Linked DNA regions of Homo sapiens. The protein of the gene in region 4 interacts with the protein of the main gene of each other region in a pairwise test. Each region holds a gene or a part of one and is shown on either strand. Other genes may lie near its edges. The genes, in order: NINL, GRAMD4, FCHSD2 and SH2D4A.

Region 1 (7,024 bases), on a different chromosome or scaffold from region 4:
AAGTGAGAGTCCTCGGCTGCTTGCTGTGCCGCGGCATGCCCCGCAGTGTTGGCTGCTGCCTTGTTTTGTCAAATGTTTCCACACTTGCTGGCATAATGAGATGCCCCAGCACCTGCCCACAATCTGCCATTTCTCCAAGGAGTCTTGGTTCCTTTCCTGAGGGAATGGTTTTAGAGACAGGATCTGGGTGCCTGGCATGCTGCTCGCTCCTAGGGGTCGCTGTGTCTTGACTGAGGGCATCTTTCTGGTCGGTCTCCAGATTCCAGAAGGATCACCCTGAGCCCTCCCCACTGTATGTCACCTGATCTCTGCAAACTCACTTTTGGGGTTTCTTTGTATTTTGTAACAAGGATATTGGTGTTTTTAAAAACTTTTTTTCTTTCAACTTTTATTTTAGATTTGGGGGTACCTGTGCAGGTTTGTTACCTGGGTATATTGCATGATGTGCCGTGTGGGCTGGGGCCTCCCTTCTCCATCTGGGCCTCTCCACGTGGCCTCTGCAGGGCTACTTTGGGCTTCATCACAGCATGGTGGCGGCAGCTGCCCCAGAGCAAATGTCCCAGCAGAAGTGGGTGGATGTCGTGTTCCTGGAAGTCCCGTGGCATCACTTCTGCTGTCTCCTAGGTCGAAGCAGTCACAAGTCCCACTCAGGCTGCAGGGCTGGGGACCGAGGCCCCAGCCACGTGTGAATGGGGAAGCATGCACAGCCTGGTTTATGTCTGCTTCCTGAAGGTCTGCAGGACCCTGGGAGGTGTCTAAGAAAGTGGGCTAGAAACTCTGCCCTTCCTGTCCCTTTAAAGAGCAAGTGACTGAGCATACTGGTTAGGACGTAGTTCATTAAAGTGGGAGCACAATTAAGCTGGCCACAAATGCAGATGCCTCCCCTGAAGCTTCCACCCACCCTGCCATGGTGTCCTAGCCTTCCCGCCGCCCACGCGGCCTCCACCTGCTCCAGTGTCTCCTTACCAACATCATCCTTTCTTTCTGACATGTTCTCTGCTTTGCAGCATATGATCTGAAGCAAATGGTTTCCTCTTTGGTAGTTAAAGCTGCAGAACCCTTTGCAAATTCAGTGGCCGCTGAGGAAGGAATCCTATCCTTACCCAGGGCACTGCCTGACATGCACATTGCAGCACCACTGCAGTTCCAACAAAGACTGTAGTTTCTGGTGGTGACAGTATTCTGCATTTTCTTTTCTTTTCTTTTCTTTTTTTTTTTTTGTTGAGACAGAGTCTTGTTCTGTCACCAGGCTGGAGTGGAGTGGCACAATCTCGGCTCACTGCAACCTCTGCCTCCTGGGTTCAAGCGATTCTCCTGCCTCAGCCTCCTGAGTAGCTGGGATTACAGGTGCCCACCACCACGCCTGGCTAGTTTTTGTATTTTTAGTAGAGACCGGGGTTTCGCCATGTTGGCCAGGATGGTCTCGATCTCTTGACCTCGTGATCTGCCCACCTCAGCCTCCCAAAGTGCTGGGATTACAGGCATGAGCCACCACACCTGGCCTCTTTTCTTTATTTATTTTTTTCTTGAGATGGAGTTTGCTCTTTTTGCTCAGGCTGGAGTGCAATGAATGGCATGATCTTGGCTCACTGCAATCTCTGCCTCCTGGGTTCAAGCGACTCTCCTGCCTCAGCCTCCCAAGTAGCTGAGATTACAGGCGCATGCCACCATGCCCGGCTAATTTTTGTATTTTTAGTAGAGATGGAGTTTCACCATGTTGACCAGGCTGGTCTCAAACTCCTGACCTCAGGTGATCTGCTCATCTGGGCCTCCCAGAATGTTGGGATTACAGGCGTGAGCCACCATGCCCGGCCATACTCTGCATTTTCTACATTTCTCCCCAGGAGCTGCCTCACTTTTTTCTTTGAGCCCCTCCCATATAACAGTGATAGAAAGTGATGTAAGGGCCAGGCATGGTGGCTCACGCCTGTAACCCCAGCACTTTGGGAGGCTGAGATGGGTATATCACTTGAGGCCAGGAGTTCGAGACCAGCCTGGCCAACATGGTGAAACCCCATCTCTACTAAAAATAGAAAAATAAATAAATTAATTAACCAGGCGTAGTGGCGCACACCTGTAATCCCAGCTACTTGGGAGGCAGAGGCAGGAGAATCACTTGAACCTGGGAGAAGGAGGCTGAAGTGAGCTGAGATTGCACCAGTGCACTCCAGCCTGGGCAAGAGAGCAAGATTCTGTCTCTAAATAAATAAAATACAGTAAAAATAAAAGTTTTTAAAAGTGAGAAAGTCAAGAAAGGACCTTTGTTTTGGCTTATCTCACCATGATGTTAGCGACTTAAAATCCAGATGGTTTCCTGCTGGAAGCTGGGAAGCAACAGGCCCTCACCTCACAGTGCACCTCACCTGCAAGGGACCCCCCTGGAGGCCAGCTCGGCCAGCTCGCTGGGCTGAATGGCTGCAGCTGCTAGAGGAGGTGGCTGGCTCTGTCCCCACAGGACCTGCAGGACCGCAACGATGAGCTGCAAGCTGAGCTGGAAGGCCTGTGGGCGCGGCTGCCCAAGAACCGGCACAGCCCCTCATGGAGCCCGGATGGGCGCAGACGGCAGCTCCCTGGACTCGGCCCAGCAGGTAGGAGCCCGTCCCTGGGAGGGGGCTGACCCAAGGCCTGCTGTTGACAACAAGGCCCAGAGCCAGGAAAAGAGAGTGGAGATGATGAAGATGATGATGTTGCTGTGACCTGAAGGGAGGTGGTCTGCTCTGCAGGGACTTTCCAAGGAGGATCCAGGGATGCCACAGGGTGACCTTGCAACACGGAAGGTCACCTGCAGAGGGAGGAGGAAGGGACGCTGAAGGTGGGCAGCCCCAGGGCTGGCCCAGGCTGTTCCCACATCTCAGAGCTGTTTCAGTGACACGGTACTTGCTGAGACTGAGAAGAGCTAAATCCCGGAGAATGCATTGGGGCCTCCCAGTACTCAGGCCTGTTCAGACAGAGGCTGTCGGGGCTTACCCTTGCTGCTTCTGGGTGATGTGGTAGCTGGCACCACCCCCCAAGTCTGACTGAGGCAGGGAGGCACCAAGCACTAAGGGAGCGGCCCCACCTGGCCAACTGCCCCTGTGCTCGCAGCCAATGGGATTAGGACAAGCTCCAAGGACCCAGGGTCCCCGGAACCCACATCGAAGTGTCTCTGGCTCCTCTGCAGAGAGAATGGGGGTCCAGGTGCTGCAGCCGCCCTTGAGGTCTGTGGTGCTCCCTTTGGAGGATGGGGTGGCCTCTGCCCACTCAATAGCAGCATACAATGCACATGGCTCCGTGTCCACTGCTGTGACAGGGGCCCATGGGGACCCAGCAGCCCCACCTGCTCCCCTCGCTCCCCCGTCATGGCAACCTCAGCCCCTCAGAGAAGATTTTGCTGCCATCTGTAACCCCGGGAGAACTTCAGAGTTCTCCTGTTGCCCTGAAACTGTTTACTCAATGAAATAAAAAAAAATAGGCCAATATGGGAACCTCATAGGGGAGCCTAGTCGGGGCTTTTGTGCATGTGAGACTGACCTCCTGGGACCCCTAAGGCACCCCCTCCCCTGCTGGCTCCTGGATTGGAGTCAGGCTCCTGAGGCGCCACCCCAACAGCTGGCAGACTCTCAGGAAGCTGCAGGGAGGTGCAAGACCCCACCGGCCACCCATCCCAGAAACGCACATATCCAGGATTGCCTGCACCCAGGGTGGTGCCTGTGGGTCCGTAGCCCCATTGACGTCCCACCTGGATGCCGCTGGCTGTCACACCTCCCTGCCCGTCAGTCTCAGAGCGCTAATTCCAGCAGGGGTTAGTGTGCCAGAACTGCCTCTCAGAACTTGGCATCGTTTATGTGATGAAATAATAATGTAGGGCCACCAAGGAAAGGTTATCTAAATAGATAGATAACCTCCGTGCACACAGCTGTGGTCATCGGCACATCATCTAAAGCTCTGCACCACCGGGCATCTGCTGTGCCACAGGCCATTATGTCCTTCCATTTCCTCCGTGACCCTGGCATCTTCAGGGAACAGGATTTAGGGTGCAGTAAATGTACCATAGCACAGCATATTTTAGGGACTAAAGGGGCTCCTGTGAATCATGTGGGGAGCCACCTAGTCTCATCTCTGAGTGTTCTGATAAATAACGGAATGCTATGTACTGACGAGTGCTGACTTTAAGGACGCAGCGTCATCCTCACAGCCAGCACCACCTGCCCCTCATGGATGCCAATGCCAAAATATCAGATTGGAAGGTTTGGAAGGGGCCCCCGTGGCATCCTCAGTGTGACAAACGGAAGTGGCCTCTTGTTTGCAGGCATTTCATTCCTGGGTAATTCTGCTCCAGTGAGTATAGAAACGGAGCTGATGATGGAGCAGGTAAAGGAGCATTACCAAGACCTCAGGACCCAGCTGGAGACCAAGGTGAGGGGATTATGGGGCTGTGGGGCCCTGGGGGAGTAGCTGCTGTGTGTTGGGCAGCTTTACTTGGGCACGCTGACATTTCCACATGCGTCTGCCCTGGAATCCTTTGTCTCATTGTGAGCCCCTTTGGGGAGGAAAGTTTGTAGAGAAATGCAATAAAACTGACATGCTGCCCAAACCCTCTTTGGAAGGACACAGGACATAGGATGACTGATGGGGAGGGAATGGTGTGATACTCTGGAGTGTCACAAGGGGATACTTGAGGCAGCGCAGCGCCGTGGCCAGCCCTCCTTGCTGGTCTGTGGGTGGGAATCAGTTACTGGCTGTGCTCCAAGCCTGAGCGACCTGGCATTTGCCCCCTGGGTAGCTCAGTGGCTTTGAGGCCAGGGCCACCCTGGATGAAACTGTCAGGATGAACTTAGCCCTGTTCTGTTCCTAGACTGTGGTGGCTTTTGAGGGACAGTGTCCATGACTTGTTGTGTGTCCAGTTCCTCCGTCAGGGTACCAGCTAGGTGGAGCTGCCTGTGGCCATGCCCTGGGGATCCCTGAAGGATTAACTGGAAGCTCCGGCGAGCCCTGCCCACCCATAGTTGAATGGTATTCCTTCCACTGAGGGCCTCCACGCTGTTCAGAGCCACCCCGAGGTCCTGTAAAGATTCCACCCTCTGCGTCCCTTGCAGTGCTTGGCCAAATGCTCCAGTGAGCCCCGAGCTTCCTGCCTGTCTTGCCTGCCGCCCTGCCTCAGGGGGGATAGGTGACTCACACCTCACTAGGCCCTGGGGAGCACCACCAACATTCATGTCACTGTCCCCTTCTGCACACCCTGGCACCTCGGCAGGCCAGGATGCCGGTCTTTGCACGTTGTGCCAGGCAGCTTCGTGTTTCTGTGTTACGTCAGCAGCAAGATCATTCTTAGGGTCTCCTGGTCCACGGGGCTCATGTTTCTCGTTTTAGGTAAATTACTACGAAAGGGAAATTGCGGCACTGAAAAGGAACTTTGAGAAGGAGAGGAAGGACATGGAGCAGGCTCGCAGGCGCGAGGTCAGCGTGCTGGAGGGTCAGAAGGCCGACCTGGAGGAGCTCCACGAGAAGTCTCAGGAGGTCATCTGGGGCCTGCAGGAGCAGCTGCAGGACACAGCCCGCGGCCCCGAGCCTGAGCAGATGGGCCTGGCACCCTGCTGCACCCAGGCACTGTGTGGCCTGGCCCTGCGGCATCACAGCCACCTGCAGCAGATCAGGTCCAGCCAGCTTCTTTTGAGATTTCAAGTCTGGGGTTTCTTGCCAAGAACCAAAATTTGAAATTAGACTTAGGAAACAACTCAGAATTGCTGTGCCTCCCGACTGGGTGGTTTTCCTCTGGGCAGATGGGTGAGTGCCAAAAGAACAGGTCCTGGCATGAGGATTCTGGCTCTGAATTTAAAATATACATTGGATCATGGGCCATGAAGCTGTTCACTGTGTAGAAACAGCCCAGTGTTCTGTACCCTCTGCCTCAGCCGTGCCCGGCAGCAACATTGCCTCCATCGCTCAGAGACACCCGCTTCTCCAGGGCCAGGCAGGGTAGCATGTGGGGAGATGGAGAAAGGCCTGAAGCCCTGAACAATGGGAAAGATGGCCAGCTGGGGTTAGTGAGGTTCCCAAAAAGGCTCAAGTGTGCAAGCGAGAGAGAAGGCTTACAGAAAGCCTGTGCTGGTGTTTTATGTGTTCTGGTGTGAGGTACATGTGAAGTGACCACGTCTGTTCTTGTTGGGGGCATCTGAGGTAGGAGAGGAAGTGCCTGGTCATCGCAGACAGGCTGCTGCTCAGCTGGCACCCACTGTCCTGTGGAGAGCATTGGCCCCGGCTTAGAAGAGGACGGGCCCTCCCACCACACTGGCCAGGCCACCCCCAGCCTGACAGAAAGTCATCTTTCCGGCCGGATGCGGTGGCTCACACCTGTAATCAGCACTTTGGGAGGCCAAGGCGGGTAAATCACTTGAGCTCAGGAGTTCGAGACCAGCCTGGCCAACATGGTGAAACCCTGTCTCTACTAAAAACACAAAAAATTAGCTGAGCATGGTAGCAGGCGCCTGTAATCCCAGCTACTCGGGAAGCTGAGGCAGGAGAATCACTTGAATTCAGGAGGCGGAGGTTGCAGTGAGCCGAGATCTCGCCATTGCACTCCAGCCTGAGCCACAAAGTGAGACTCGTCTAAAAAAAAAAAAAAGTGAGACTCGTCTCAAAAAAAAAAAAAAGTCGTCTGTCCATCCTGTGCCTCCCCAGGCTTTCAGCTATTTCCCCTTAAAGCCAAGAGCGTGTGGTAAGAGATTGGGTCAGAGTCCCTGCAGACCCCAGTGGGAACAGAGGGGCAGGCACAAGCAGCCCCTCTCCTCTCAGCATCCAGGCCCTTGTGCACCTGGCCCCCACCCGGAGCTGTCTCTAGCAGCCTGCTCCTGGGGAGCTGCTGTCCCCGCTCTGCAGGGCTCCCGATCTGCCAATGCTTGGAGGTGGAGGCCCTCCAACCACTTCCTTGCTCCCCTTGCCCTGGCCAGGCATGGACCACATACCCCTTCTGGTGCTGTGGTCTTGCCAGCTCTCACTTCACTTCCACTGGACTCTCCTGCGGGCCACCAGAGGTCCCAAGGCCCAG
Region 2 (7,024 bases), on a different chromosome or scaffold from region 4:
TTCTTCAACTGGGTGCCCCCCCACGCCCAGCCCATCCCTGCTGAGAGGCCGCCCATGACCAGCTGCTCAGACGGCTCCCAGCCACGCCCTCGCAAGTTCCCCTCCACCAGCTCCGTTTTCTCCCCGATACTGTCACCTGACACAATCATGGTCAGTCCCCCTACTAAACACGACCTCAGAAGAGCCAGGCCTGACTGCGCCCCAGGACCCCACCTGGCAACAGATGCAGGGATGGGAGGCGGGGCCGGCCCCCACACACCTGCTAACGCACCCCCCTGGGCAGCAAAAGCTGTCAGGAGTTCCGGTCTCTCCGGGTGCCCCTCCCAGTGCTGGGGGCTGTCTCGCTGCCCCCAGTGCACAGCCCGCCAGACCAGACCAGACGTGGCAGGCCCTCCCTGCAGGGGCCCCAGGGTCAGAGTTCCATGTACTATCTGTGCTATAAAGGGACTGATAAAGCTGTGCCTTTGTTTCATTTTTTGCCTTTGTAGGACATTTTCACAGAAATTCATCAATCAAGTCAGACTTTTTGACCCCAATTCTCAACTTGTTGATTCTTTTTTTTGAGACAGAGTCTTGCTCTGTTGCCCAGGCTGGAGTGCAATGGCTTGATCTCAGCTCACTGCAACCTCCCGGGTTCAAGCGATTCTCCTGCCTCAGCCTCTCGAGTAGCTGGGAGCCTACCACCACACCCGGCTAAATTTTTTATTTTATTTTATTTTATTTTATTTTATTTTATTTTTGAGACGGAGTCTTGCTCTGTCGCCCAGGCAGGAGTGCAGCAACATGATCTTGGCTCACTGCCAGCTCCGCCTCCCGGGTTCACGCCATTCTCCTGCTTCAGCCCCCTGAGTAGCTGGGACTACAGGCGCCTGCCACCATGCCTGGCTAATTTTTTTTAATTTTAATTTTAATTTTTTTATTTGAGACAGAGTCTTGCTCTGTCGCCCAGGCTGGAGTGCAGTGGCGCGATCTCAGCTCACTGCAAGCTCCACACGCGGCTACATTTTGTATTTTTGGTAGAGACGGGGTTTCACCATGTTGGCTGGGCTGGTCTCGAACTCCTGACCTCAAGTGATTCACCCGCCTCGGCCTTCCAAAGTGCTGGGATTACAGGCGTGAGCCACCGTGTCCGGACAACTTGTTGATTCTTGAAAGATGCTAGGTGTGAGGAGGGGCAGGGCCAGGACCACCCCCTTGGCTGACTGGACTGAGCTCCCAGGCCTCCTCCACGTGGTGGCCGACCCAGGAGGGACAGCTCAGCTCAAGAGAGCCCAAGTCCCAGCTGGGGCCATCCTTGCTTGGAGCAGGCAGCCTCTGCCCCTCTAAGCTGAGGTCCCTTGTCAGCACTGCAAAAGAATACATGGGCACCGATAAGCCAGGAATGCCATCTTGGCCCACACCTGGCAGGGTCACCGCTGCCCAGTGGCAGTGGTGATCTCAGGGTGGTTGTGAGAACCCAAACCACACTGGGTGTCACAAAAAAGGACAGCAGGGGCCGGGCGCAGTGGCTCACGCCTGGAATCCTAGCACTTTGGGAGGCCGAGCGGGCGGATCATGATGTCAGGGGTTCAATACCAGCCTGGCCAACATGGTGAAACCTCGTCTCTATTAAAAATACAAAAATTAGCTGAGTGTGGTGGTGCACCCCTGTAATCCCAGCTACTCCCGAGGCTGAGGCAGGACAATCACTTAAACTCAGGGGATGGAGGTTGCAGTGAGCCGAGATCGTGCCACTGCACTCCAGCCTGGGTGAGACAGACTGAGACGCTGTCTTGAAAAAAAAGGACAGCAGGGCAGATGCAGGACACCAAGACCCAGGTGCACACCCCCAGGCTCCCCGTGGAGGGCGGCCTGCCCCGGAGCTGTCCAGGGCCGCAAGTGCACTGCAGCTCTGGAGCCTCGGCACCTGGACCCAGGCCTAGGGGTCCAACAGGAGGTCACAGTGGTCACCTACCCATTCATGAGCCTAGAGTCCTGGGTGCTAGCCAGAGGGGCTCCAGGGCATTGTCGGGGTAAGGGTCTGATCAGATCTGGCTCTGCCCACTCCTGGTGATGCCACCTGATGGCCACAGTGAGCTGCTGTTGGACAGCTCAGCCGTGCTGCGTCCAGAGAGGCCTGTCCTCCCACCAGCAGTTACGCTGGGTCAGGGCTAGGGTCGGGCTTGCGTTATGGTAAAGGCATTCAGGAAACGTGGCAGGGGGCATCTGCTCTTCCACACAGACACAGCCCCCACTGCTCCTCTGCGCAGCACGCCAAGCCTAGACTGCTGAGGGGCCGGGGTCTGACCTCCCGACTCCGGCACGGAGCTCTCCCCACCCCTGGCTTTGTGGCTCCTACAGCCGCACACGCTGTCCTGCGTGGGCTCAGGCGAGTCCCACCTGCCCCTCAAGGACAGGACCCTGGCGGCCTCGCTCCCACATGCCAGTGTGTGGCCCATGTCAGACACTGGATCGTTGTTATTGAGGAAAAGAGAAAGAAAAGAAAAGAAACAAGACAAGACAAAACAAAACAGAAGAGACCAGTCGCAGTGGCTCCCGCCTGTAATCCCAGCACTTTGGGAGGCCGAGGTGGGCAGATCGCCTGAGGTCAGGAGTTCCAGACCAGCCTAGCCAATAAGGTGAAACCCCGTCTCTACTAAAAATACAAAAAAAATTAGCTGGGCGTGGTGGCGGGTGCCTGTAGTCCCAGCTACTTGGGAGGCTGAGGCAGGAGAATCACTTGAACCCGGGAGGCGGAGGTTGCAGTGAGCCGAGATCACGCCACTGCACTCCAGCCTGGGCGACAGAGCGACACTCCGTCTCCAAAAAAAAAAAAAGAGAGAGAGAGAGACAAAAACAAAGAAAAGGAGAAAGACAAAGATAAAGGAGGGAAGCAAGAAAAAAGAAAAGAGAAAGGAGGGAAGAGAGCATGCTGGGCAGCAGTGGATGAGCGCCTCCTGGGGTGAGGGGGGGCCACCACACCCCACCCACCTCCCGGCACAGCCCGGTCCTCACCGCCAGCCACCCTCCTTCCCCGCCGCCAGCTCTGCAGATGAGTGTTTTAGTGGATGAGACCCTTGGCTTCACGTGATGTCACCAAACTCATCAGCTACAACCAACCTCCCTGCACATCAAACCAGGCTCTCAGGCTCTCCATGACTGTCACCCCTAAGCCCACAGGCGCCCCAAGAGGCATGTCCTGCCCAGGGCAATTCCCTGACACCCCAAGTCCTGCTATCCTGGGTCTTGGGTCTTCCAGCTCCTCCCACTTTGCAGGAGACATGGGGGCCTTGGAAGTGGAGGGCTTCTTGATTTAAGAAACAATCACCGTGTCCCTCGATCTCGGATGGGCTTCACTTCTCCCAAATTGAAACATTTGTGACAAAAAGCAGAGGAAGGATCGCCAGGTGAGTTTAACAGCTCTTGCAGACACCTGGCAGACACTGGTGGCATGCGGACACCTGTGTCCCTCCTCCTGAAGCTACAGGCCGCAGGTGCATCTACTTACCCACGGCAAGCCCCACCAGGCGGTAGGGGAAGAAGCAGGAGGCCAGGAAGGCAGCCCAGAGCGCCACATACAGCTTCTGTGTGATCTCCGGCTGGACCCACATGAACAAGCTGGAAGGAGACGGGAGGCTCAGGCCGGGCGGGCGCCGCAGGGCCGGGGTGGGGGGCGGGACTTACTTCTTGATCTTCTCCAGGATGTCAGCCATCTTCCCGAAAAGGTTCTGTGTGAAGGAGAAACAGCAATTACAACAGCCCCCGCTCCTGGGCTGTCAGTCACACCGCGACGCCAGGAGGGCCTCCAGGTCGGGCAGCCCTGAGGTCACTCGGAGCCCTGTGGTCCTGCCCGGCTGCTCCTAGGCCGGGGAAGGCCCAGCTCTGGTCTAGGGCAGAGGTGGCCACGCTCACAGCAACAGCAGACCCGGGCCTGAGTCCTTCCCAGGGGCGTTCAACCCTGGCCAGGGGCGGTGGGGAGGGAGGGGAGCTCCACCCTCGCGCACCGTCCGCAGAGGCTGAATCAGGAGGCCCCTTCCCCAACCACCAGAGTTGCTGTAACGACCATCCAAGGGCAGGGTGACTACAAGTCAGCTGACCGCGGACAAACCGGGCCTGCAGTGTCAGGCACGGCCCTCCCCAGGCAGCAGCGGAGGCCGGCGGAGACCTACCCCTGGCCGGCGTAGACACACCCCTGGCTGGTGCCCATGGCTGGCGCAGACACACCCCTGGCCGGCGCCCGTGGCAGTACCTGGGCTTTCTGGGCGACGTCCAGCACCAGCTGGAACTTCTCAGACACAGTCAGGTCTTCCTTTGGAGGTTCCTTCAGTAAAAGGGGAAAGAGAATTTTCCACTGAAATTTAACAGTTCAGAAAAACCACTGACAAAACAGTGTGGAGCCCTCCCAGCCCCAGGGACTCTGCTGTCCCCACACAGCCAGGGGGGATGGGACATCCCTTGGGGACCTGGCACCAGGAGGACACCCCTATGGGCTGATGGTGACATCTCACCCCGTGCCCCTCACTCTGGGTGCACAACAGGAGTGGGGCAGAGCCGCCCCTGCAATGGCTGAGCAGAGGCTCTGCCTCACAGTTCACCTTCACAGCTGCCCTCCCTCACTTACAGGCAGGGAAACTGAGGCCCAGCCAATGGGAGCCCTGGTCCTGCTTGTCTCCCATTCGTTAAGAGCCTCTCAAGGTCTCCTGGGTCCCAGTGCTGGGCGGGCAACAGCCTGCCTCCTCCAGGTACTTGCCCTGACCCCTGGTGCTCCATGCAAGAAACAGGCACTGAGATACCCAACTAGGCCCGTGGAGGCACCGAGGCCTCCCTTCTGCCCACGCCCAGTGGTCCTGCCCCATGGGCCGGGGTCTCCCTCTAGAGCAGACTTCTGTAAAGGGCCAGACAGTAAATATTTTTGGCTTCCATGGCCACGTGGTCTGTCGTCTACTCAAGGGTAATGCAAAAGCAGCCGCAGCAGTATGTAAATGAATGGGTGTGTCTATGTGCCAATAAAACTTTATTTACAAAGTTAGGCAGTGGGCCAGAGGTGGGTTTTTTGTTGTCGTTGTTCTGTTTTTTTGAGACAGAGTCTTGCTCTGTTGCCCAGGCTGGAGTGCAGTGGAGGGATCTCGGCTCACTGCAACCTCCGAGAGGTGGGCTCTTGAATCTCAGATGGGAACAGGTCCACTTGTCCAGCCTACTGTTCACCACCCTACCTGGGGAGGTTGTGGGGGCTACAGCAGCCCCTCAATGTCCCCCACCCCTGCCATACCACATCCTAGCTGGGAAGCCTGGCCAGGGCCAGGCAATCTGCTTCTTGCACAGCCAAGCCTGGACTAGAATGTGGGGCCGGGCTTGCAGCCTCGCAGGCCTTGGGGCTAGGGAGGGGCTGGCCTCCTCCTCCCCTCCTCTTCAGGCCAGGCCAGGACTCCAGGGGGATGACCACATGGCCTCATCCAGAGGCTTCCCCGAGCGGTGCCTACAGGCTGTGAGGCCTGACGTGATGGAGACAGTCGGAGGAGACCGTGCACCCTCCAGGGACTTACCACGGGCTCAGACACTTCGGGCACGATGCTCCACTGTATCCGCCACCCCCTGGCGAACAGAAAACACACACACCTTTAGGACAGCGCCACCTGAGTCAGGGGAAGGCATCGAATCGCTGGCCCTGCACGCCCAGCTGGGCTTGGAGGGGGCCCTTCTAGGTCCTTCTATGCTGCCCAATGGGGAGAAAAGGTCCCTCCGGAACCCCCTGCTGTGAGAGCAGTCAACTCCTGTCACCCTCACCAGCCCCTCCTCTGGGGCCCTTCTGGGCAGAGGGGACATATTTAAAAGTGGCCAGCGGTGTGGGAGAGGGCGGCCCTTCAACATCCAAAGTGGCATCAGCAAGTGTCCAAGCTGATCCTGACCTAGCTCTGGGTACCAACGACACCTTCCAGAGTATTTAAGTGATTTCTACAAAAAACATTTTCAAATGAGCCAACTGGGGCAGGCACAGAGAACCATCTGGAAACACTGGTGCATAAAAGTGCAAACTTTTGAACGGCCAAGTCAAAGTACAGAATCACAGCTCTTCCCTGAGCCTCGGTGCAAGGCTGAGGTTCACTCCAGGGGTAACCGCAGGCTAAGAAGGACCCAGGAGTGCAGGGACTAGGGGTCCACCCCAGGGCATGGGCTTCCCAGAGCCCCCCTCAGCCTCCACAGGGAGGGGGTGCTCAGAGGGGGCATAAGGGGTGACACGAGAGCCCTGACTCAGGCCAGGGTTGGGGTTAACGCGTCAGTCACACGGGCGTGCTGTCTGCAGGCGACTGGTACTCATTCCCGGTCCAGCTCCTCCCCAGCAGGCTCATCTCCAACAGGCAGCCAGCAGGAACCTTCCGGGGCGTGGAGCCCTGTTTGCTTCACCCACCTACCCACTGATGTTGGGGAGAAGCCCCCTGCGATGTTCGGGCAGGTGCTGGAACGGCCCTGGCTCTGCTGGCCGCCCGGGGAAGGAGCTGCTGGGGGATTTGGGAACTTCCCACTGCCATCTCTAGCAAACCAGGGAGGGGGCAGCCGCCCTGCCTGGGGGGTCTCTGGAGCCTGTCAGGGGACCACCCCCAAAACGTCAGTGCATGACATACCCAGCTGGGGTCACGGTTGTGAGACGCAGGGAGACAGCACAGCCATACATGCGGTGGGATAAAGCAGCTGCAACAAACCGGCTCACCTACCTGGCGATGAGGTAATTGAGGGATAACCTCAGAATTGCTAGAAATAAGAACAATGGGATGGCCCAGCCATGCCACACGGCATTCATGTACACCTGCGGGTGAGAGACAGGGCGTCAGACCTCCTGACAGCTTGGATCAGGACAAGGCACATCCCTCCCGCCTCCCCCCACCAGGCGGCCCCAGTGGGGAGACCAGGCCACCCGCTGGCTCTCCAGACACTCAGGGATGAGGGTGCGTCTGATGGGGAAGCCGGAGGAAGGGCTGCTTCCCCGGTTTAAGAGCCGCCGGTGGAAGCCAGGAGACACCTAGGGAGAAGCGTGTCCTGGGGACAGAAG
Region 3 (6,891 bases), on a different chromosome or scaffold from region 4:
AAGGGAAATAAGAATTGCAGCCACTCTTGCTTCACCATGCAAATCATCTTCCATTCTTGACGAAAATCTTTGTTGAACTGTCAGTCTGTATTACAAGATTGTTAAATAAGTGGTATTTCTTTCATTAAAATAAGTCATCCATCCCTCTAGTAAGAAAGATACTGATTTTCACAATATTAGCAAGATGTCTTAGCTATTCAAAGTTAACTTGATTATGAATATGAGTAACCTCAATAATAAAATAAAATATGATAAACACACTTCTCACTAAATTTGGCACTCAAAAACAAAGTTGTATTTGTCATGTTCTAACCCAGTGAGAGCATATAACCATCTGGGGTTGACTGGCTCACCCCCAGATATTAACCATTAACCACAAGTGTTGGTTTAAAAATCTAACTGTGTAAAACCGTTAAGGTCAATAAAATGATTGTTACAATTCCGTGGAAAGATTATTTAAACAAGAATCTTTAATTATTATAATTTGACTAGTAAGACTTTTAAGGTCCTTGTTTTTTCTGAATACTATGTGTGCATTATAGGTCCCCCACTGAAGGAAAAAGTTTGTATTGTGTTAGTTCCAGTTCTAATTTCCAGCTGAGTCAAAGTTCTAACAGCCTTAAAGCAGGAAATCCAAAAGGAAATTCCATCATCAGTTCCTGGGGCTTGGTAACTCAAAGGTTCTTTGAAACAGACAAACAGAAGTCCTTGAACTATTTACTATAGCCTTACCTCATATCTTCAAGCAAATCACATTCTGCTTGATGTTTGGCTTGAAGTTTTGTCATCTGCTCAACTTGAATGTTTTTCAGTTCTTGTGTAACTTTCACCTAAAATATACCATATATTTATGAAGGTCTTTTTACAAATTTAACCCAAAAAAATTGCTTCAGGAAAATACATCTGTCAGAATATGTCTCTTGCTCGCCTCTCCCCTGAAGGCCATAAATCCAATATTCGCCATCTAGTTTTATTTATTGAAGATACTTATTTAATGAAAAATTAAAGCCAAATAGCCTGAACAGAGGTTAAATGAAAATACACGACTATAAATATTACAAACTAAAGACGTGCAAAATAAACTGCCAGTCATTCCATTTCATGCACAAGCTCAATCCACGTCTAGGTCTTCCTACAGTTTTAAAAGAGCCTGTCTTCTATTTCTAAAAAAGATTCAAAGACATTAACCACCAGGAGAGGTGAGCAGAGTGTGGATGGGGGCTGGGAGCCTAAGAGTGCCTGATACCCAATGACCAATATTTACACAATCATGATAATATGCCTGAATCGACTACATAAATTACTCCATAATGGCTGCGAAAAAGCACACTGTCTCAGAATGATGCCCTCGACTTGCTGACAGCGCATCAAATCACAATCTCTTTCTCACAAAGGAGAAAGCAAAAGTGACCTTCCAGCATATGCAGTGCTTTTAAACTACCCCGGGAAGCCGATCCCCGTGGAGGCTCCACTTCAAACAGCGGAGAACAGCAAATGCCTGCTGGCCAGAGAGCCTCGCCCGCCAGGCCGGGGCCCCAGGGTTCGAAGTTAACGGTCAGTCTGGAATCTCGGCCTCAGCAGTGGGACCACCCGGAGGGGTGGGGGTACATGTTCGAAAGAAAAGGACTCACTTAAATGGAGAAACCCGGATTAGGAAAGAGAGAAAGCAGCGGCAGCAGACACGGGTGAGTTAGGCGTTAGGCAAATGTTTGCCCACGAGGGGAGGACAGAACGGCCTCATCCACCCAGTGCCCAGAGTAGACATTCAGTATCCATCTGTAGGATTAAAAAGACAAGGACACAGCCTCGGCCCCTGGGAAAGCTGGGGAAGGGCGCAGCGGGGAGACTGATGACAAGCCGGGTGCATCCGTCACTCCCACCCTGGTCATCCAACCCCGGATCGCAGTGCACACCCCACGCACCTCCCGGGCCCGGTCCTCGCTTTTCTGAAGACAGCACGACAGCCTCCTCGCCCCTCAGCCGGGGACGAGGCAGGACCCGTCAATCCTTAATTTGTTTTCCCTTGGGGTGGGGAGGCGGTGACTATTCCAACTTCTTTTCGGCCGCCCCGTGGGAAAAGCAGGCCAAACCCTAAGGCTAGGCTAGAAACAAATCCCCCGCAAATTTGCAAACGGGCGGGGCTGGCGACAAGCGGCTGGAGGGCTCAAAGCTGGTGCAGACTAAACAATCACACACGCACAAGGCTCTGCAAAGCTGCAGGGGCGTCCCCGCCTCCCCCTCGGTGCAGCCCCGAGAATGCACTTTGCAGCGGGCAGCATTGCCATGCGCGCGCACACACACAAATGCACACCCGAAACTCTTGTGAAATGTCTGGGGGTCTCCTGCGTTAGAGGACGGACGAGCCCCGGCGGCCCCTCTGTCGGAAAGGCAACTCACACGCGCGCCCCCCACCTGGAGCCGGCGGCAAGTCGGTGACAAGCCCAAGACGAGGGCGGTCACGGCCCCTTGCGGGAGGGGGAAGGGGCGCAGCGGTCGCCCCAGCCGCGTTCCGCGTACGCATCTCTCCGAACCCCAAAGCCCCCCAGCTGCGCCCTTACCTTCCTCGGCGGCGGCTGCATGATGCTGAAGGGACATCAATCCTCCCCGACGGCAGCGTTAGCAAGGACCAGGAGGAGGAGGAGGGCCGGAGAGGAGGGGACGGCCCAGCGAGCGCGCGCGTGTGTGAAAGGAGCGCTTAAGAAGCAAGACTTGCCCCGGAGGGAGCAGGCCAGCGGGCGGCAGGCGGACCCCAGCCAGAGAGCGAGTGTGAGGAGACGAGGGAGGAGCACCGGGAAGGCTTGGGGCCCGGGCGGCCCGGGCGGCCCGGGGGTGTGTGAGGAAGGAGGCGGAGACGGCGAGGGGGCGGGGGCCCCAGGAGCAGGGGCGCGAGGGTCTCAGCCGGCCGGGCGGCGGGTTAGCCGCAGCCGCGTTGTCCGCGCTCCCGGTCGGCCGCCTGCGCCGCCGCTCCCGGCGGACGCAGCGGCCCCCACCCCACCCACTCAGGCGGCCCGGCCCTCGCTGGGCCTAACGCCCCCGCCCGCCCGGGAGGAGGAAGGTGGCGCCGCTCTCCCCGCTAGGGCTCCACCACTCAGGCCGCGGGAATTTCCGGCCTCGCCGCGCGGCGCAGCGCCCCGCTCCGGATGCTGAGGGAACCGCTCTGTCCAGAGCGGGGTTCGAGGGGCCGGTCCGGGCTGCCAGGAGGGAGCTAGGCCACGGCACGGGGCTTCGTACCGCGGCAGGGGAAGGGGGAAGCTAACGGATTGGTCGGTGGGTGGGAGGTGTAGAAACGCCAGCGCCACGCGAAAATCCCCCCTTTCTCTCCGAGAGTGGCACGTTCCAGACGCCTCCTGCCCTCCCTCCCCCACGCTGGGAGCCAGCCGGGGGCTTCCCGCGCGCTTTCCCGCCAGCTCGCCCCGGCGCGCGCGTCTCCGCTCGGGGGCGCGCACGTGGGCGGGAGAGGGCTCCGCGCCGACGCACGCGCACAGGCCGCCCCCGCCTCCTGCCTGCCTTTGCGTGTGTGTGTGTGTGTGTGTGTGTGTGTGTGTGTGTGTGTGTGTGTGTGTGTGTGTGTGTCGGGGGGCGCGGGGGACGACGCTCGCAGGGAAACGTTTGCAGTGGGGAGGGGGGCGCAGCATGCCTGTGGGATACGAGAATTCCGGCGTTTTCTTCCTCTCAGCCCCTCAACACCCTACTCTCCCTACCAGCTAGATGTGCGCGAGAGAGGCGAGCAAGGACAAGTCGCTTTGCGGCTGGCCGCAGGTGCCAGGCCATTGCGATTGTAGGGCGGAAAGGCAGTTGCTCTGCAAAGGAAACGGCGGCACTCTACTGCAGGGCATTCAAGTCAAACATCACTGACTCCGCTGAGAGGGAGCCAAGAGAACGTTAAGGCCGAGGCCCCCGTTTCACAGACGGGGAGGCAAGTGCCCATAGAGGGAAGCCTTTCTAAAGGTTACACAGCAGGACTAGAATCTGCGTCAGGAAGTGTTCTATGGGTTATTTTAAAAAAGAAACAGGTGCAGGATAATAAGCACGAGGAAAAGTAGAAGAGGCAGGAGAGGCCATAGAGGAAGCCCTTGTCTGGGAGTCAGGATCTCTGGGTGCCAGTCCACTTTGCCTGCTCCTTAACAGGCTAGGTGAGCTCGGCTTCCTTATCTGCCAGTGAGGGTGCTTATCTAAGCAGTGCACCCCACCACCACACATGAACCTTCCTGCTCTGTTCAGACCATCTACGGGGGAGTTTATCGACCTCCCTTGGGGTCCTCAGAAGAGGAATACCTCTTCCCCATGCCCAGGGAGGTTTTTTTTTTTTTTTTGAGTCACGGGGCTGTGTGGAGGCTGAGCTGGATTACTCCACCGTTTTTTCAGAAGTTGAGATCCCAGACAGCTGTTCTCAGAAGTGCAGTCAGGCCTAAGAGGAAGGTGAATGAGGCCTGGATAGACGAGTAACTTCCCAGATGACCACATGACCAGAAATTGAAAAGGTGGAACTTCAACCCAGGTTGTTTACATTGAGTTAGACTAGATTCTTGTACAGAAAAGTGACAGAGCTGTGTTTTGAATAAGATTAATCTAGAGCTGTGTATGAACTAGGAGACTAGTCTTGCTTTTTCTGGCTTCAAAAGTTAGCCCTTCACCAGAATCCTTAATCAAATCAGGGAAGGCCTGGGGCAAGGGGACAGGTGGATGGAGGCCCAGGGCCCTGACAGCTGCGGGGTGGCAGCTAGAGCCCAGGCCATAGGTAGCGTAGGCTGGGCTCCAGTCTCAGCTCCACCACCAATTTATTGTGAAGCGTTGAGCTAGTCAATTCACTTATTTCAGCCTTGTTTCCTCACTTGTAAAATGGAGGTATAATGCTAGCCTCATAGGCTTACTGTATTAAATAGAATTTCTCCTACCACAGGGCCTGGCATGTAGTGCTTAATAAGTGCTTATTGAGGCCAGGCGCGGTGGCTCACGCCTGTAATCCCAGCACTTTGGGAGGCCGAGGTGGCCAGATCACAAGGTCAAGAGATCGAGGCCATCCTGGCTAACACGGTGAAACCCCGTCTCTACTAAAAATACAAAAAATTAGCCAGACGTGATGGCGGGTGCCTGTAGTCCCAGCTACTCAGGAGGCTGAGGCAGGAGAATAGCGTGAACCCGGGAGGTGGAGCTTGCAGTGAGCAGAGATGGCACCACTGCACTCCAGCCTGGGGGACAGAACGAAACTCCGTCTCAAAAAAAAATAAAAAATAAAAAATAAAATAAGTGCTTATTGATTCATCATTCATTCAAAAAATACTTGCTAAAGTCCTGCTTTGTTCCAAGCCTGTGCCAGGCACTGGGGTTCTAGAGATGAGCAAGATAGAATCAGCCTTCGCCAAGACTGAGTTCCAGACCAACCATTCCTTGAATGACACTGGGCTAGTGGAAGAGGAGTAACACAGTACTTGGCCCGGATGCAGTGTCATGCACATAACAAGTGCTTAACAAAGATTTGCTGAATCCTAGTCTTGGGTGCAACTGGTCTGGCCCAGAGATTATCCTCCCTTCACCTCTCTTCTTAGGAAGTGAGCACTGGGGTATAATGGTGCTGGATGTTGGGAGACATGGGATCCAGCCTCTACCATGGATCTAGTGGGTCTTCTCTGGGCCTTGGTGCTGGCCTGCAGAATAAGATAAGTGAGTGAGCCTAGAACTTAGGAGGCTCTTCACAGAAGAAGTCAGACCCTGGGGATTTCGTTTATGCATATAGGAGGGCATCCTCTACCTGATTTGCCACCGTTCTGAAGCCAGGAGTGGCACTGACTTTCTGGAATGATTTCCTTTGGAAGTGTTATAAAGAGCTAAGGGCAATACCAGATGGGCTTACCTACTAACTCCTATTTCAAAACTGTGATTTAAAAAAATTGTTTTAATACTTACCAAGTGTCTCTTCCAAACCCTAAACTTTCATATTACTTTTCCAAGCTAATCTTTACCCATGAGATAGTATTCGTTTCTTCATTTTTACTGATGGAGAACTGGAGGCTCAGTGGGGATAAGTGACTTGCCCTGACATGATAGACTTCAGACCATAACCCAGTTGTCCGATGAGGAATGTTCGTGTATGAAGAATGTTCAAAGGAATTGGGAGAGTTCCTAACGCAGGAAAATAAGCAGACCCAGGAGGATACAATCCATTATGTTCCAGACTCTAGGGGACCAGGGAAGGGATTTCTGTGACTTATGTAAGCCTGACTTGAAATGTACCATTTTGAACAGGGTTGGGGACTTCCAGAGCCTTGCTCCTGCAATGCAGGCAAGCGCTGTGTTGCCAGTAGCATTGCTTGAGATTCTTTGGGGAAATGGTGCAGAGCAGCAGGCACTATGGCCCCAGAGACAAAACTGGGACAGGTGTTAGCTGCATCTCAGGAAGGAACTTTTCCAGGCAGAGCTACCCCTGGAAGGAGTGAGCTCCCTGTCCCTGGGGCTGTGCAAACAGGTTCTGGCTCCCTTCCATCAAGGAGACCACAGATGGGATCTCACTCTGAAAAGAAATTAATAACAGCTGCCATTTATTTTGCCTCTTCCATGTTCCAGACATTAAAATAGGCGTGTTATTTACATTGTTTCCAACATTCACAACAACTCCTCATAATACATATAACCCCATTGCACAGGCTGCAGCTCAGAAGTGAAATGACCTACCCAAGGTCACACAGCTAGTGAAGGAAAGGGAGGGCTGGCCCCTGGCTCTGAAGCTGTGCTCTCCCTCCAGCATGCTGCAGTGCAGTCTCCCATTTCATTAGGAATATGATTCTAAGGTTAAGTCAGAGCTAGGATCAAAAACTGGCCTGGAGCAGGTATATGAATGGGTATCAGAAGATCAGCTGTTCTGATATTCCAGGGCTCCTGGGAAAACTGGCAGGG
Region 4 (7,024 bases):
GATAAAACAGAGGCATCCTCCTTTGGGGACACTTGTGAGGCTCTGATGAAGGAATTGGTGGGGAGGCATTCTAAGTGCTTCCATCAACAGGCTGGACAAGAGGCTTTCTGAACGGGCCCAGCGGCTTTCTATATGGGCCCAGCGTGCCCTTGTTTTCTGGTACTGTTAGCTGAACACATTTTCACAGCTCACACCACACATCTGGGTCTCCACACCTTCCACCCTGGGCATCTGGATTAGCATCCAGCCTCGGCCCCTCCGCCCCTCCACTCCAAGCCATCACCTGGATTTCCCCATGCCTGGCTGACAGTCCTGAGTCCTGGTCCAACATGCTTCCAGCAAAACACTGCTGAAAAGGAAATGATGGTCTTCTGAATAGAGAAAGTAAACCATTACAGATTTTGATAAAAGTAAAATTCTCTCAGAGACGCAGGACAAGTTCCTTACGTTTTCTAGCTTTCTTGAATAAATACGGTGGTCAGGGCCGTATATAGATGGGTAATAGCAGATCTCATCTGCTATTACTCTGTGAAACTCGTTAATTTTTCTTCTTTTCCACTGTGCATGTACATAATTACATGCAGATTAAAGGAGTAGATTTATTAAATATAGCTCTGTTAGACATTTGAGTAACATCAACCAAGTACTACATCTGTTATTATTAATATTTTTTCTTAGGTAGAATCATGTCATGTTCCAAATTTCTTGCTTATCCTCAGCAACAATATCCATGATGATCATAGCTTGATGTTTTCACTATATGTTTCCTAACCGTTTAAAAATAAACACGTATGCATGTGGAAGGATGAACAAAGCTCCACTTTGAAGCTTTTTCTGTTTAAGCTTAGAAATTGCTAGCAGCACATGTATCTATCTTGGGCTGGCAAACAGCTTCAATCAAAGGATGGCAAATTTTAACAGTCCTTTCAAACATCAAAGCTGTCCTTTGGATTTTCAAATGTTGGCAAACAAAAGGAGCTTAGCTCTAGGCAGGAAAACAGTGTAAGGAAAAAAAAATGAAAACAGTAAATGCACAGAAGTTTAGTTACATCTGCAGTGAAGCACAATTTATGAATGATGATTACTTGAACTGTGATTTATGACTGCCCAGAGCGATCAGAAACAAGTTTCACAATATTAATGTTTATACTTTACGTTGTGGTGACATAATAGCAAGGAAGTCTTTACATTTCTGTGGGAAAGCACAAAATTAAAAAGCTTGTCACTTGTGATAGAGAGGTGGGCACAGGCAGCCCTTTCTGGCCATTTCAGTTTGTTTTATTGCTTAGCTAACCAAGGCTTTTATTAGTCCACCAAACTGTAAATTCAGTCGTCTTGTGAGCACTCAGAAGGTTGTGTCCAAATAAGCAAAGTACTTTTCAGGTCTAAGTGATTTGGTTTGTTCATTTCTCTTTCGTTTAAAATGATTTCCGTTGAATGCTCTTAATGCCAGAAAACAGTACACTAAAAAATGGTTAAGGTGGTAAATTTTGTTATGTGGAATTTTACCCTAAGTTTTAAAAACCTAATTCTCCTTTTAAAGGAATATTTACATTTTGAAAGTATTTCTCCCTTCTCAAAAGATGCTTTTGAAAAATATTTTTCTGTTTTTTTTTTTTTTTGAAACAAAAAAATACATATTCTGGCAGGGTGTGGTGGCTCATGCCTGTAATCACAGCACTTTGGGAGGCTGAGGCAGTGGATCACTTGAGGTCAGAAGTTCGAGACCAGCCTGGCCAACATGGTGAAACTCCATCTCTTCAAAAAATACAAAAATTACCCAAGTGTGATGGCACTTGCCTGTAATCCCAGCTACTCAGGAGGCTGAGGCAGGAGAATCGCTTGAACCTGGGAGGCAGAGGTTACAGTGAGCCGAGATTATACCACTGTACTCCAGCCTGGGCGAAGGAGTGAGGCTCCATCTTAAAAAAATAATAATGATATATATTTCTTTTGAAACACTTAAAATCATGTAGTAAGTACCACATTTTGGGACACATGACTCGGGGGAGAGATTCAGCTGAGATTGCTCTGGGAATGTGCATTTCTTCTGTGGAGTCTGTCAGCTACTGTAAAGTAGGTTGATGCTAGTTCTATGTAATAGTGTGTTTACATCCTTCAGGGAGTCAGTTTGAAGCAGCTAAGTACTGTGTCTGAGGAAAAGGAATATTTTTTCTTACTATATGTTATACACTGTGCCAGGGACTTCTTAAGTTATCTAATCCTCAATATAACCCTAAGAAATATTTTTTTCTCATCTTTCTTATGGGGAAACAGCCCAAGAGAGGTTCATTTGTTGCTCCTGGAGTTACACACTAGCTAGCAATGGTCAGTCTTACTTCAGGTCTTACTGACTCCAAAGTCCACACTTGATCCTTCCTAGTGGGCCAGAGAGTTAGATAGAAGTCAGCTGTGCCGGGTACCCCGTCCTTCAGGAAACTGCTGGATTTGCTCACCAAGGTTCTTTTTTTGTTTTGTTTTGTTTTTGTTTTTTTTTGTTTTGTTTTTAAACAGAAGAAAGAATCTATGAAGAAAAAACAAGATGAAGAAATAAATCAAATAGAAGAAGAGAGAACGAAGCAGATTTGTAAGAGCTGGAAAGAAGACTCGGAATGGCAGGCATCTCGTGAGTACCCAGAGGTCTCCATAGCACCTTCCAGGCTCTCAGCTGATTCTCTCCCTTAATAATGTGATCAATCTAGAAAGCGCTTAATGTGGGTTGTTGAGAGATATGTTCACAGTAAGTTACCACTCAAATGTTATTACTAACTTATTACTCAAATGCTTACAGGCTACTTTTGAACAGCAGACTCGTTCTCCATTTATTTCTGTATCACCAAAATTATGATGTAATTTATCAAATAGCATGATATATAGCTATGGAAAATAGGTTTTGGAGAGTGTTTAATGATCTTAGACTGTTTATATCTCATTAGCTTGGGGAAGAAAAAACACCATGAAATAGAATGAAAAGCTTCGCTATTTAGAAATGTCTAAGTATCTGAAGGAAAAGAACTGGAAGGTTATAATAACATGTAAACATTAGTTTTCTTGGAAAGGTGAGATTCAAGATTATTTATTTGAATGTTTTTCTTGTAATTTAATATTGTGTTTTGGATTTTTTTTCCCCTAAATTTTTGATAGTGAATACATTTTAACTTTGTAATCAGAAGCACACAGGAATACCAGGCTGGATGTGTTAGCATCCCGCTCCTGCCTGTGACCCAGCCTTGACTCCTATTTGAGTGAGCAGAATGGGTGAGAAAACTCATAGGAGAAGAATAAGCCCATGCAACTGAAGGCAGAGGAGAGGATGCTCCAGAATGCTAGAAGAATTAGGTTTGTGAAAGAATTAGTGTTTCCATCTGACTCAGAGAAATCTGAACTGCTAGATCAACCTGAGGTGGCTTGAGGAAGACAGCAGGTATGGCTATATTTGCAGGATGTTGAGATCCTACATTGATCTGCAGTCCCATTACAACCAATGCCATTTAAATGACAACTACTGTGAAATGAAAATATTTGCAAGATCCAGTAGGCTCTTTGTACTATGCACTGAAATCCTAGCATAAGGGAATATTTTGGGTGTCTCTTTGAAGTCAAGTATAACAGGATTTGACCAATACTGCCTGAAGTGTAAATATAGTCAATAAAAATCATTTTTACATTCTGCATTTGAGTCTCATTGCTATAACAAAAAATTCTGTTTTACAAAGTAGTCATGCGCTGTATGATGTTTTGGTCAACGATGGGTCGCATATAGTTTTTAGGCCAGGCACTGTGTCTCACTCCTGTAATCCCAGCCTTTTGGGAGGCCAAGGTGGGTGGATCACTTCAGGTCATGAGTTCAAGACCAGCCTGGCCAACATGGTGAAACTCCATCTCTACTAAAAATACAAAAATTAGCTGGTTGTGGTGGCGTACACCTGTAGTCCCAGCTACTCAGGAGGCTGAGGCAGGAGAATTGCTTGAACCAGGGAGGCGGAGGTTGCAGTGAGCCGAGATCGTACCACTGCACTTCAGCCTGGGCAATGTAGCAAGACTGAGTCTCAAAAACAAAACAAAACAAAACAAAAAAAACACAGACACACACATACAGAAAACCAAAAAATAATAATAAAACCCCAAAATAATGGGTTGCATACATTTTTAAAATAAATTTTATAAATGTAGTGTAGCCTAAGTGTAAAGTGTTTACAAAGTCAACATCAGTGTGTAGTAATGTCCTAGGTCTTAACATTCACTGAGCACTCACTCACTGACTCATCCCAGAGCAACTTCCAGTCCTGCAAGCTCCATTCATGGTAAGTGCCTTATGTAGAGGCACCATTTTTTTTTGTCCTCTATACCATATTTTTACTATACCTTTGCTATGTTGGGGGTATTGATTATTTTTATTTTTTTGAGATGGAGTTTCGCTCTTGTCACCCAGGCTGGAGTGCGATGGTGTGATCTCAGTTCACTGCAACCTCCGCCTCCTGGTTTCAAGGGATTCTCCCGCCTCAGCCTCCCCAGTAGCTAGGATTACAGGCGCCTGCCACCATGCTCAGCTAATTTTTTGTATTTGTAGTAGAGTTGGGGTTTCACCATGTTGGCCAGGCTAGTCTCAAGCTCCTGACCTCAGGTGACCCACCGACCTTGGCCTCTCAAAGTGCAGGTATTACAGGTATGAGCCACTGTGCCCGGCCTTATGTTGGGGGTATTTAGACACACAAATACTCTTGTGTTACAGTTGCCTTATGATGCATTTCTCAGGATTTATTTCTCTCATTAAGTCACTAGTGACTGTAATATTAAAAGGCAGACTTGGGGTACTTTTTTGTGTACTAATGTGTCCTACAATTACCTGTGGTTAAGCATCCCTTTAATTTTTTGTCTGTCAGGTTGCTTCTCATTCTGTCCTGCTCTCTGCTCCTTCACCCTATGCACAGCCCCATGCCACTGAGTAGTCCTGATCTCTGCTAGTGAGTCAAGCACACTGCATCTGAACATAAGTCATGCAGGGCGTGACAATTGCCTCTTATTACTCAGCACCCCTGCCAGCTTGAACCCATGCTCAGGCGGGGGATCCTCACTTGGTCTTGCCAACTGCAGGAAATTCTTGCACACTTTCTCTACTTCTCTCTCATCCCTTCTTCCTCCTCTTCCTTTTCTCTCCCTCTCAGAAAACCCCCAGTCCTGTATGAAGAGAGGAATCCTGCAGCGAACGCTGGGCAAGCCCTAATGGCCTGGATCATAGGTGTTGATAATGATTGTTCCTTATTATAAGCAGACAACAAACTGCTGAGAACCTGCGCTGCTGCCCGTTGTGCAATGAATGCTGAGCCTTCTCACCTGCTCTGTGGGCTGATGAGGGTTTTCTCCGACCCCGTTGTTTTTCCAGTGCGAAAATCCAAAGCAGCTGATGAGAAGAGACGCTCCTTGGCTAAACAAGCACGAGAAGACTACAAGAGGTTATCCCTCGGGGCCCAGAAAGGAAGAGGCGGTGAGAGGCTGCAAAGCCCCTTGCGTGTTCCGCAGAAACCAGAAAGACCTCCCCTTCCACCCAAGCCTCAGTTCCTAAACTCAGGGGCATATCCTCAAAAACCTCTTAGGTAAGAAGCCACACAGATGGGTTTATGCATAAACATTGCAATGGGCTTTGAATAAGCGTTGAAATTAAAGGGGAATTGTATGAGCTGCCATGGGGTGTGGAGGGCCAACTGGCAGCCTGTGTAAGTAGCTCAGGTTCATGTCTAAGCCTTCTTCCTGGGTGATCTGGGCGGGCATTCCTCCCTTTTTTAGCTGTCAAATGTCCATAGCTGTTATACTTAGTATACCCAGTGAAATAGTAAAGCTGTGCATGGAATGAGAGAACTTCCCGTGTCCCTACCCCACTCTCCCCTTTCCCTCCCCCGCCCCCCTCCCCCCCAGAGGCAGCCGGTGAGCCAGTGAGGGGAGAAGAGGAAACAAGTGGGGTTTCACTGATGCCCAAGATCACCCTTAGTCAAAGATTATCAAAGTAGGAACCCAAAGGCTTGCTGACTTTCGTGTGATCAGTGGGAGTACATTTTCACTGCCAAGGATTAAAGGTTTGATGGTAATTCTCATTCACGGATACATAGCCAAGTTCCTCTTTTAAGAATTTGGAAAGCCTCCTTTTTTAGATGAATTGTCTATTTGGTGGTGGAGATACCATTGTCTGCTAGGCTGTGGAAGAATTAGGAAGAACCATTTGTTCTGGAAAAACTGTAGAAAAGTGCAATGATGCTATTAAACCCCCATCCCTTATGTTTGCTGATTCTAAATTTTTTTCTGGTTATTGATCTTATTTTTAACATCCTAGTATTTAGAAAGAAGTATTAAAATCAAATGTTGATTGAAAGAAACAGAATTGTCTAAAGCCTTGCATTCTGAAATAAAAACTAAAAATAATTTGAAATACTTCTCTAAGATTATGGAGAAATGAAAAATAAGACTCTTCTCCTGCTTGGAGTCGTAGTTATCTTCAAGGTTGTCTTTAAACAGGAGTGATGACCTCAGGGGAAACACAAAGGCGGATGTTTTTCTTTGCTGTAATTATTTCTACTTACTCTACTGGAAAGTTCCGTTTCGGGAAGTGGGGACCAACGTGGAACTCAGTGGAGTAAGTGGAAATAATTACAGTAAAGACCATGATCTCCAAAGTGATCGTTTGGGTAATGATTCTTCTCTTACCGACAACAAAGCAAGAAATGTAGTCAGGAAATAGGAGTCTCTTAATTGTGAGAACAGCTGACAAAGGTGCACACGGCTCTAAGTGCTGGAGCTTGTCTGTCCGCACGTTGGCGACAGAGCCTCAGCAGGGATGTTTTTGCAGCTAACTCCTGTTCACCGTCTCTTCCAAAGGTAGCATGGAAATGACTTGTAGATGTCCCTGTCCCACAGCATTTTGAAGGACAGTATATTTGATTGACAGCAATGAAGGTGGTCTTTAAAAAAGGGCAATTCCTATTTTCAGCTGTGCTCAGTTAGCTCATTTTTTCCAACTGAAGACACTGCATGA

What was found.
Region 1: the proteins of SH2D4A (region 4) and NINL interact in binary tests that used the Homo sapiens proteins (3 or more experiments, as listed by UniProt).
Region 2: the proteins of SH2D4A (region 4) and GRAMD4 interact in binary tests that used the Homo sapiens proteins (3 or more experiments, as listed by UniProt).
Region 3: the proteins of SH2D4A (region 4) and FCHSD2 interact in binary tests that used the Homo sapiens proteins (3 or more experiments, as listed by UniProt).

Annotation. Positions count from the first base shown.
Region 1 is NC_000020.11:25,477,532-25,484,555, reverse strand, and holds part of NINL (ninein-like protein), read left to right. Parts: intron 1-2,455; coding exon 2,456-2,588; intron 2,589-4,288; coding exon 4,289-4,395; intron 4,396-4,902; exon of another isoform or gene 4,903-4,989; coding exon of another isoform or gene 4,990-4,992; intron 4,993-5,349; coding exon 5,350-5,633; intron 5,634-6,160; coding exon of another isoform or gene 6,161-6,361; intron 6,362-7,024. UniProt on the Homo sapiens protein: Involved in the microtubule organization in interphase cells. Overexpression induces the fragmentation of the Golgi, and causes lysosomes to disperse toward the cell periphery; it also interferes with mitotic spindle assembly.
Region 2 is NC_000022.11:46,665,372-46,672,395, reverse strand, and holds part of GRAMD4 (GRAM domain-containing protein 4), read right to left. Parts: intron 6,782-7,024; coding exon 6,690-6,781; intron 5,572-6,689; coding exon 5,523-5,571; intron 4,301-5,522; coding exon 4,229-4,300; intron 3,708-4,228; coding exon 3,664-3,707; intron 3,598-3,663; coding exon 3,488-3,597; intron 1-3,487. UniProt on the Homo sapiens protein: Plays a role as a mediator of E2F1-induced apoptosis in the absence of p53/TP53. Plays a role as a mediator of E2F1-induced apoptosis in the absence of p53/TP53. Inhibits TLR9 response to nucelic acids and regulates TLR9-mediated innate immune response.
Region 3 is NC_000011.10:73,139,299-73,146,189, forward strand, and holds the start of FCHSD2 (F-BAR and double SH3 domains protein 2), read right to left. Parts: upstream 3,021-6,891; 5' UTR 2,580-3,020; coding exon 2,559-2,579; intron 2,187-2,558; exon of another isoform or gene 1,923-2,186; intron 831-1,922; coding exon 733-830; intron 1-732. UniProt on the Homo sapiens protein: Adapter protein that plays a role in endocytosis via clathrin-coated pits. Contributes to the internalization of cell surface receptors, such as integrin ITGB1 and transferrin receptor.
Region 4 is NC_000008.11:19,358,689-19,365,712, forward strand, and holds part of SH2D4A (SH2 domain-containing protein 4A), read left to right. Parts: intron 1-2,514; coding exon 2,515-2,626; intron 2,627-5,383; coding exon 5,384-5,594; intron 5,595-7,024. UniProt on the Homo sapiens protein: Inhibits estrogen-induced cell proliferation by competing with PLCG for binding to ESR1, blocking the effect of estrogen on PLCG and repressing estrogen-induced proliferation. May play a role in T-cell development and function.